Regions from separate parts of the Homo sapiens genome. Here regions 1 and 3 are each linked to region 2. A link means that fine-mapping ties the variant in region 2 to the expression of a gene that starts in the linked region. Tissue or cell type: cerebellum. Region 2 holds a variant in brackets; each other region holds the start of a gene. All regions are shown on one strand. Distances are from middle to middle.

The links. PIP is the estimated chance that this variant, and not a neighbour inherited with it, causes the effect.
Region 1: INSL3 starts here. The variant in region 2 is fine-mapped to the expression of INSL3 in cerebellum (GTEx, PIP above 0.99). The same link has a PIP of 0.9 or more in cerebellar hemisphere.
Region 3: JAK3 starts here. The variant in region 2 is fine-mapped to the expression of JAK3 in cerebellum (GTEx, PIP above 0.99). The same link has a PIP of 0.9 or more in cerebellar hemisphere.

The regions. Positions count from the first base shown.
Region 1 is chr19:17,820,143-17,822,755 of GRCh38, forward strand. It overlaps INSL3 (insulin like 3), which reads right to left and starts at 1,377. Exons shown (of 2, transcript NM_005543.4): 1 at 1,175-1,377. The coding sequence starts at 1,364.
Region 2 is chr19:17,789,887-17,792,642 of GRCh38, forward strand. No RefSeq gene overlaps it. Among named protein-coding and RNA genes, the nearest start is that of B3GNT3, 3.9 kb to the right of the region's middle. The variant T/C (reference allele first, on the strand shown) is at 1,639.
Region 3 is chr19:17,846,713-17,849,325 of GRCh38, forward strand. It overlaps JAK3 (Janus kinase 3), which reads right to left and starts at 1,270. Exons shown (of 24, transcript NM_000215.4): 1 at 1,234-1,270.

The DNA.
Region 1 (2,613 bases), 30 kb after region 2:
GTGTGGTGGTGCGTGCCCGCAGTCCCAGCTACTCTGGAGGCTGAGGCAGGAAAATTGCTGGAACCCGGGAGGCAGAGGTTGCAGTGAGACGAGATCACGTCACAGCACTCTGGTTTGGGTGACAGAGCGAGGCTATGTCTCAAAATAAATAAATAAAAATAAAATAATAAAATAAAGTAACATAATTGTGAAAAGCAATACTTTTCAAAAGCAATACTTTTAAATACTTTTAAAGCTGGACACAGTGACTCACATCGCTAATCCCAACACTTTGGAAGGTCAAGGTGGGAGGATTACTTGAGCTCAGGAGTTTGAGACCAGCCTGGGAAACAGAGTGAGACTCCCTCTCTACGAAAAAGAAAAAAAAATTAGCTGGGTGTGGTGGCAGCACCTGTATCCCAGCCACTCCAGAGGCTGAGGCAGGAGGATGGTTTGAGCCCAGGAGGTTGAGCCTGCAGTGAGCCGAGATCTCACCACTGCACTCCAGCCTGGGCGTCAGAGTGAGACCCTGTCTCAAAAAACAAACAAACAAAGCAAAATTAAGGCAAAAATTCATGAAGATCAAAATATTGAAATTTTAAGACAGGATCTCACCATGTACTTGCAAGAGCCTACCTCTCCTGCCTCACTCTGTTTCTGGCCCCTCAGGGGGACTCATGCTCTGAGGACTTTCTTTTTTTTTTTTTTTTGAGACGGAGTTTCACTCTGTCGCCCAGGCTGGAGTGCAATGGCATGATATCGGCCCACTGCAACCTCTGCCTTCCGGGTTCAAGCGATTCTCCTGCCTTGGCCTCCCAAGTAGCTGGGATTACAGATGTGCATCATTATCCCCGGCTAATTTTTTTAAAAATTATTTTTAGTAGAGATGGGGTTTCACCATTTTGGCCAGGCTGGTCTCGAACTCCTGACCTCTGGGGATCCACCCGCCTCAGCCTCCCAAAGTGCTGGGATTGCAGGCGTGAGCCACCACGCCTGGCTAACGGCTCTGGGGACTTTCACACGCGCGTTCACACACACTCCAGTGCGGACCCACGATCTGTGCACGCAGCCGGCAGGTGAGCCCTGGGCACATGCATGCAAACCTGCCCACCTCCCTGCACGTGTGCATCTGCGCCTACGTGCACCTGCCCCACCTCGGCTTCCCAGAGCGCTGTCCCTGCCCGTCCCCACTCACGGTCGCCTCCGGTCGCAGGCCTCCTGGCTTCGGTGGACCAGCGGGGGCCCCCGCACACGCGCACTAGCGCGCGTACGAAGTGGTGGCCGCACAACTTCTCACGCATCTCTGGGGTGGGCGCGGGGCCCAACGCGAACACCAGGGCAGGGCCCAGCAGCACCAGCGCCCAGGCGGGCAGACGGGGGTCCATGGTGGTGGGTGGCGCCGGGGCCAAGCGGGGACCCCCTTTATAGGCGCCTGGGCCGTCCCAGCTGGGGGCCTTGGAGAAGGGACAGAACATTCTTCAGGACCGCCCAGGAAAAAGGTCAAGGGTGGGGTTAGTGCCAGAGCCTTTCTCCCAGGGCCAGGGCCTTGGATGTACTTCTCCCAGAGGGAGCACTGGGCAACGAGTCTTTCTTTTTTATTTTTTTCTTCTTTTTTTTTGAGATGGAGTCTCACTCTGTCACCCAGGTTGGAGTGCAGTGACTTGATCTCGGCTCACTGCAACTTCTGACACCCGGGTTCAAGCGATTCTCCTGCCTCAGCCTCCTGAGTAGCTGGGATTACAGGTGCGCACCACTATGCCTGGCTAATTTTTTTTTTTTTATTTTTTATTTTTAGTAGAGACTGGGGTTCGCCATGTTGGCCAGGCTGGTCTCCAACTCCTGACCTCAAGCGATCCATCTGCCTCGGCCTCCCAAAATGCTGGGATTACAGGCATGAGCTGTGCCTGGACTATTATTATTTTTATTATTATTATTGAGACAAAGTCTTGCTCTGTCTTCCAGGCTGGAGTGCAGTGATGCGATCTCGGCTCACTGCAACCTCCACCTCCTGGGTTCAAGTGATTCTCCCACCTCAGCCTCCCAAGTAGCTGGGATTACAGGTGTAAGCCACCACGCCCAGCCACCTATTTTTATTTTTTATTTTTGAGATGAGTTCTTGCTCTGTTACCCTGGCTGGAGTGCAGTGGCACGATATGGGCTCACTGCCACCTCCCTATCCCTGACTCAAGCAATTCTCCCACCTCAGCCTCCTGAGTAGCTGGGACTACAGGCCCACGCCACCACACCCGGCTAATTTTTTGTATTTTTTTTGTAGAGATGGGGTTTTGCCATGTTGCCCAGGCTGGTCTCAAACTCCTGGACTCAAGTCATCTTCCCGCCTCAGCCTCCCAAAGTCCTGGGATCACAGGCGAGAGCGACCACACCAGGGTATTTATTCATTTTTGACATAGGATCTCTCTGGGTTGGCCTGTAATGGCAGGATCATAGCTCACTGTAACCTCATTCCCCTGGGCTCAAGCGATCCTTCAGCCTCTGCCTCCTGAGTAGCTGGGACTACAGGCCTGCAATACAATGCCCAGCTAATTTTTAATTTTTTAATTTTTATTTTTATCTTTTTAGACAGAGTCTTACTCTGTCACCCAGGCTGGAGTACAGTGGTGCGATCTCGACTCA
Region 2 (2,756 bases):
TGAGATACTGTCTCTTAAATAGGCCAGGTAGGGTGGCTCATGCCTATAATCCCAGCACTTTGGGAGGCCGAGGCAGGTGGATCATTTGAGGTCAGGAGTTCAAGACCAGCCTGGCCAACATGGTGAAACCCCGTCTCCACTAAAAATACAAAAATTAGCCAGGCGGTAGTAGTGTGCACGTGTAATCCCTGCTACTTGGGAGGCTGAGGCAGGAGACTCGCTTGAGCCTGGGAGGCGGAGGTTGTGATGAGCCCAGATTGTACCACTGCACTCCAGTCTGGGTGACAGAGTGAGACCCTGTATCAAAACAAAACAAAACAAAAACAACAAAAACGTCAGCTGTAGGAAGGAAGGATGATTATAGGAGTTGGGGCATCAAATGGGGGCAGAGGTGGCTGCAGCACCTGCCCTGTCTGGCTACAAACAGCCCAGGGACTTCCCAGCCCTTCATGTCTTCTCCCTTGCAGGTCTTAGCACCTAGGCTGTAAATTCAGAGACCACACCTGCCCAGTGGGTGTGGCTCTGGGTGTCAGAGAGTAGTGGCATCCATGGGGCCACTGGGTGTCAGACATCCATGGGGCCCTGGGTATCAGAGCTGAGCTTTATAGAGGTGACAAAATCAAAATCTGTTTGCCACCACCTCCTCATAATGTAGCCTAATCTGGGCATGGGTTCTTCCCTGTCTGATAAGTGGCGGGTACATGGCACCTCCTAGTAGCTTTTATTTGCCTTCCTGGGGACACAAATGAGGCTGGGCACCTTTTAAAATGAAGAAGGCATCTGGGCATGGTGACTCATGCCTGTAATTCCAGCACTCTGGGAGGCCAAGGCAGGTGGATCACTTGAGGTCAGGAATTCGAGACCAGCCTGGCCAACATGATAAAACCCCATCTCTACTAAAAATACAAAAATAAGCCAGGCGTGGTGGTGGGCGCCTGTAATCCCAGCTATTCGGGAGGTTGAGGCAGGAGAATCTCTGGAGCCCAGGACGAGGAGGTTGCAGTGAGCTGAGAACATGCCACTGCACTCCAGCCTGGGAGACAGAGACTCCATCTCAAAAAAGAAACCAAACAAACAGGGCTGGGCGCATTGGCTCACGCCTGTAATCCCAGCACTTTGGGAGGCCCAGGCCGGTGGATCACTTGAGGCCAGGAGTTCGAGACTAGCCTGGCCAACATGGTGAAACCCCCATCTCTACTAAGAAAACAAAAATTAGCTGGGCGTGGTGGCAGGTGCCTGTAATCTCAGCTACTCGGGAGGCTGAGGCAGGAGAATTGCTTGAACCCGGCAGGCAGAGGTTTCAGTGAGCCCAGATGGCGCCGCTGCACTCCAGCCTTGATGACAGAGCAAGACTCCGTCTCAAACAAACAACAACAACAACAACAAAAAAAACAAAAAAACACAAGCAAACAAAAAAGCGCAGAAGGCACTTTTCCCAGGTGTGGCCTCCTAACTGCCCAGCCTTCCAGAGCAGGTGTGACGTGACCTATCTCAGAAGAGTGAATTCCAAGAGAGAGGGCGCGGAACCCGTTAAACCTGCCAACCCCGGGCAGGCGTGATGCCATTATGCAGTTTACATGCCCTGGTCTCTTCCACCCGGGTGGCCTTAAAACCTCAGCTGTGGTACAGAGTGATCCA[T/C]TGGCACAGCACCATCAACTGGGCCACATGTCAGAGGCCACCCCCAGCTGATAAGTGGCCTAATTGGATTTTCTTTTGAGCTGAAATTCACAAAACAAAAAATGAACCACTTTAAAATGAACAATTCAGTGAGTTTCAGTATATTCATAATATGTGCAACCACACCCTTTATCTAATTTGTGCACATTTTCATCCCCTCCGAAAGGAAACCCTGTCCCCTTCAGCAGTCATGCCCCATTTCCCCTCCCACAGCTCCTGGCAACCACTAATTAGCTTCCTGTCTCTGTGGATTTGCCTGTTCTGGGCATTTCACATAAATGGAATCATACGACATGTGGCCTTTTGTGTCTGGCTTCTTTCACTCAGCATCGTGTTTTTTATTTCATCCCTGTTGTAGCAGGGATCAGGACTTCAATCTCTTATCAGGACTTCAATCTCTCTCTTTTTTTTTTTTTTTTGAGACAGAGTCTCGCTCTGTCATCCAGGCTGGAGTGCAGTGGCATGATCTGGGCTCACTGCAACCTCTGCTTCCTGGATTTGAGCAGTTCTCCTGCCTCAGCTCCCCGAGTAGCTGGGATTACAAGCATGCGCCACCATGCCCAACTAATTTTTGTATTTTTAGTAGAGAGGGATTTTGCCATGTTGGCCAGGCTGGTCTCGAACTCTTGACCTCAAGTGATCTGCCTGCCTCAGCCTCCCAAAGTGCTGGGATTACAGGCGTGAGCTACTGGCCAGGACTTCAGTCTTTCTGATGGCTGAAAAAGACTCCAGGCAGGGCACAGTGGCTCACACCTGTAACCCCAGCACTTTGGGAGGCTGAGGCGGGTGGATTGCTTGAGGTCAGGGGTTCAAGACCAGCCTGGGCAACATGGTGAAACCCCCGTCTCTACTGAAAATACAAAAAGTAGCCGGGCGTGGTGGCAGGTGCCTATAATCCCAGCTACTCGGGAGGCTGAGACAAGAGAGCTGCTTGAACCTGGGAGGTGGAGGTTGCAGTGAGCCAAGATCCTGCCACTGCACTCCAGCCTGGGTGACAGAGCGAGACTCTGTCTCAAAAAAAAAAAAAAAAACAAAAAAAAAAAAAACTCAAGACTCCACTGATGGACCACATGTTGTTT
Region 3 (2,613 bases), 57 kb after region 2:
TGGCTGGGATTACAGGCGCGCACCACAGCGCCCAGCTAATTTTTGTATTTTTAGTAGAGACGGAGTTTCACCATGTTGGCCAGGCTGGTCTCAAACTCCTGGCCTCAGGTGATTCGCCTGCCTTGGCCTCCCAAAGTGCTGTGATTACACACGTGAGCCACATTGCCCAGCCTTTTTATTTATTTATTTATTTTGTAGGGGGGAGGACGGATTCTTGTTCTGTCTCCCAGGCTGGAGTGCAGTGGCATGATCTCGGCTCACTGCAAACTCCACCTCCCAGGTTCAAGCGATTCTCCTGCCTCAGCCTCCTGAGTAGCTGGAATTACAGGCACCCGCCACCAAACCTGGCTAATTTTTGTGTTTTTAGTAGAGATAGGGTTTCACCATGTTGACCAGGCTGATCTCGAACTCCTGACCTCCAGTGATCCGCTGGCCTCAGCCTCCCAAAGTGTTGGGATTAAAGGCATGAGCCACTGTGCCCAGCCCCAGTCGAGTTTAAAATAAGGCTTCAGTGGCAGTGGCGCCCCACTGCAATCCCAGCTACTCAGGGGGCTGAGGCAGCAGGATAGCTTGAGGCCAGGGGTTAGAGACCTGCCTGAACAACATAGCAAGACTCCCATCTCCAAAACAACAAAAAAATCTTAACAGAATATTATTATTCTGTAATACTGTAACAAAAAAAAATGAAAAGTCAGAGGTGATGTTTGGTCCCAGAAAACGCCATAGTTTTTTTGGTTTTTTAAAAATGTTTGTAGAAATGGAGGTCTGGCTATGTTGCCCAGGCTGGCCTTGAACTCCTGGCCTCAAGCTATCCTCCCGCCTCGGCATCCCCTGTTTATAATCCTCAACGTTCTGCATCCTGGTATGGTCGGGTACCCTGTGTCTGGACCGGGAAGGCCTGGAGGGTAGGGGCTGGGAACTCCGCCCCCCAATCCCTCCTTCCCAATCCCTCCTCCCCACCCCCAACCCCGCAGCCCCCGTCGCGCATGCGCAATGACTCCTCCAGGTCCGCAAGGCAGGCATCTCCCGGCCTTAGTCAAAGCCGAAGCCCAGAGAAGCGAGCGATCGGAGGATGCGAGTCTCGGCTCACGTCTGCCTCGCAGCTTTCCTCCGAGGCCTGGAAGGCGAGCTAGCCTTTGCCCTGGCAGCACCCTGCCCCAGCCCAGCCATCCCCCGCCACCACCATCCTCCCCCAGTGTCTGGGCCGAGCCCTGCGGCATCGCCAGCTCTTACCTAGCGGGCAGGGACCCTGGACTTTCGAAGGGCGGGCAGAGCCGGGAGGCAGCGAGAGGAAAGTCCCACTCGGCTCCTTCCTGTGTGGGCCCCTTGGTTTCCTGAGCCACTGTCATTTACCGAAAGTCAGGGCCCTGCGGGAGCTGGGGGCGGGGAGGCGGGCAAGGAGGGGCAGAAAGTTCCGGAAGCCTCTGCATCAGCCGCCCCGTTCAGACAGGCTGCTGGAGACCCCTAAGCCAAAGGAACTGATGATAGCACAGAGAAGGGTCTGGGTCACACCAGGGGCTCAGCCGACTCTAGACCCACTTGTTAAGTGGGGCTCTGGCCCGGCCCTTATTGCCTCAGTTTACCCATCTGTAGCATGTGTGAGTTGGGCACCCAGTGGAACTAATTTTGCACCCAGGGAAGGAAACCTGGCTGGATTTGCCCAGGAGGGAAGCAGGGAAGTTGCCCCAGAGGAAGGTCAAGTTCTTCTTTGAGGTATTTCTCCCTTAAGACTCAGGGAGACGCTGGGCGCAGTGGCTCACGCCTGTCATCCCAGCACTTTGGGAGACTGAGGCGGGCGATTACTTGAGGTCAGGAGTTTGAGACCAGCCTAGCCAACATGGCGAAACTCCGTCTCTACTAAAAATACAAAAATTAGCCAGGCGTGGTGGCCTGTAATCGCAGCACTTTGGGAGGCTGAGGCGGGCGGATCACTTGAAGTCAGGAGTTTGAGACCAGCCTGGCCAACATGATGAAACCCTGTCTCTACTAAAAACAGGAAAATTAGCCAGGCCTGGTGATGCCTGTAATCCTAGCTACTCAGGAGGCTGAGGTGGGAGGATTGCTTGAATCTAGGAGGCGGATGTTACAGTGAGACGAGATGGCGCCACTGCACTCCAGCCTGGCAACAGAGCGGGACTTCGTTTAAAAAAAAAAGAAAAGACTCAGGGAGAGATAATGACCCATTTCTGCCTGTGGTGCCCTGGGCCCAGCCCTAAAAAACCAGGTGGATCCGGCCTGGCCTCTTGGAACTTGTGATCTGGCGCTGAGACAATGAGCAAATGAAGGAGCCAAATCATCGCAGACAACAAAGAAAGCCAGGGTGTCAGGACAGGCACAGACTGGAACTTGGACCCGAGGCAGGACAGGGAGCTGGCCAGGGAAAGGGTGCTCCAGGAGGAGGGCACAGGATGGGCAAAGACCTTGAGAGGGCAGTGATCTTAGCAGCTTGAAGAGCAGTCAGGAGGCCAGGGGCAGGGGTGAGATGAGGGGGAAGGGGACTGCAGGGCGGTCAACAGGGGCAAGATCGTGGGGGGACAGGGGGATCAGGGTCTTTGGGAGAAGGGTGGGTTTTGCCTGGAGCATAATCTGGAGCCACAGGAGAGTTGGAAGTAG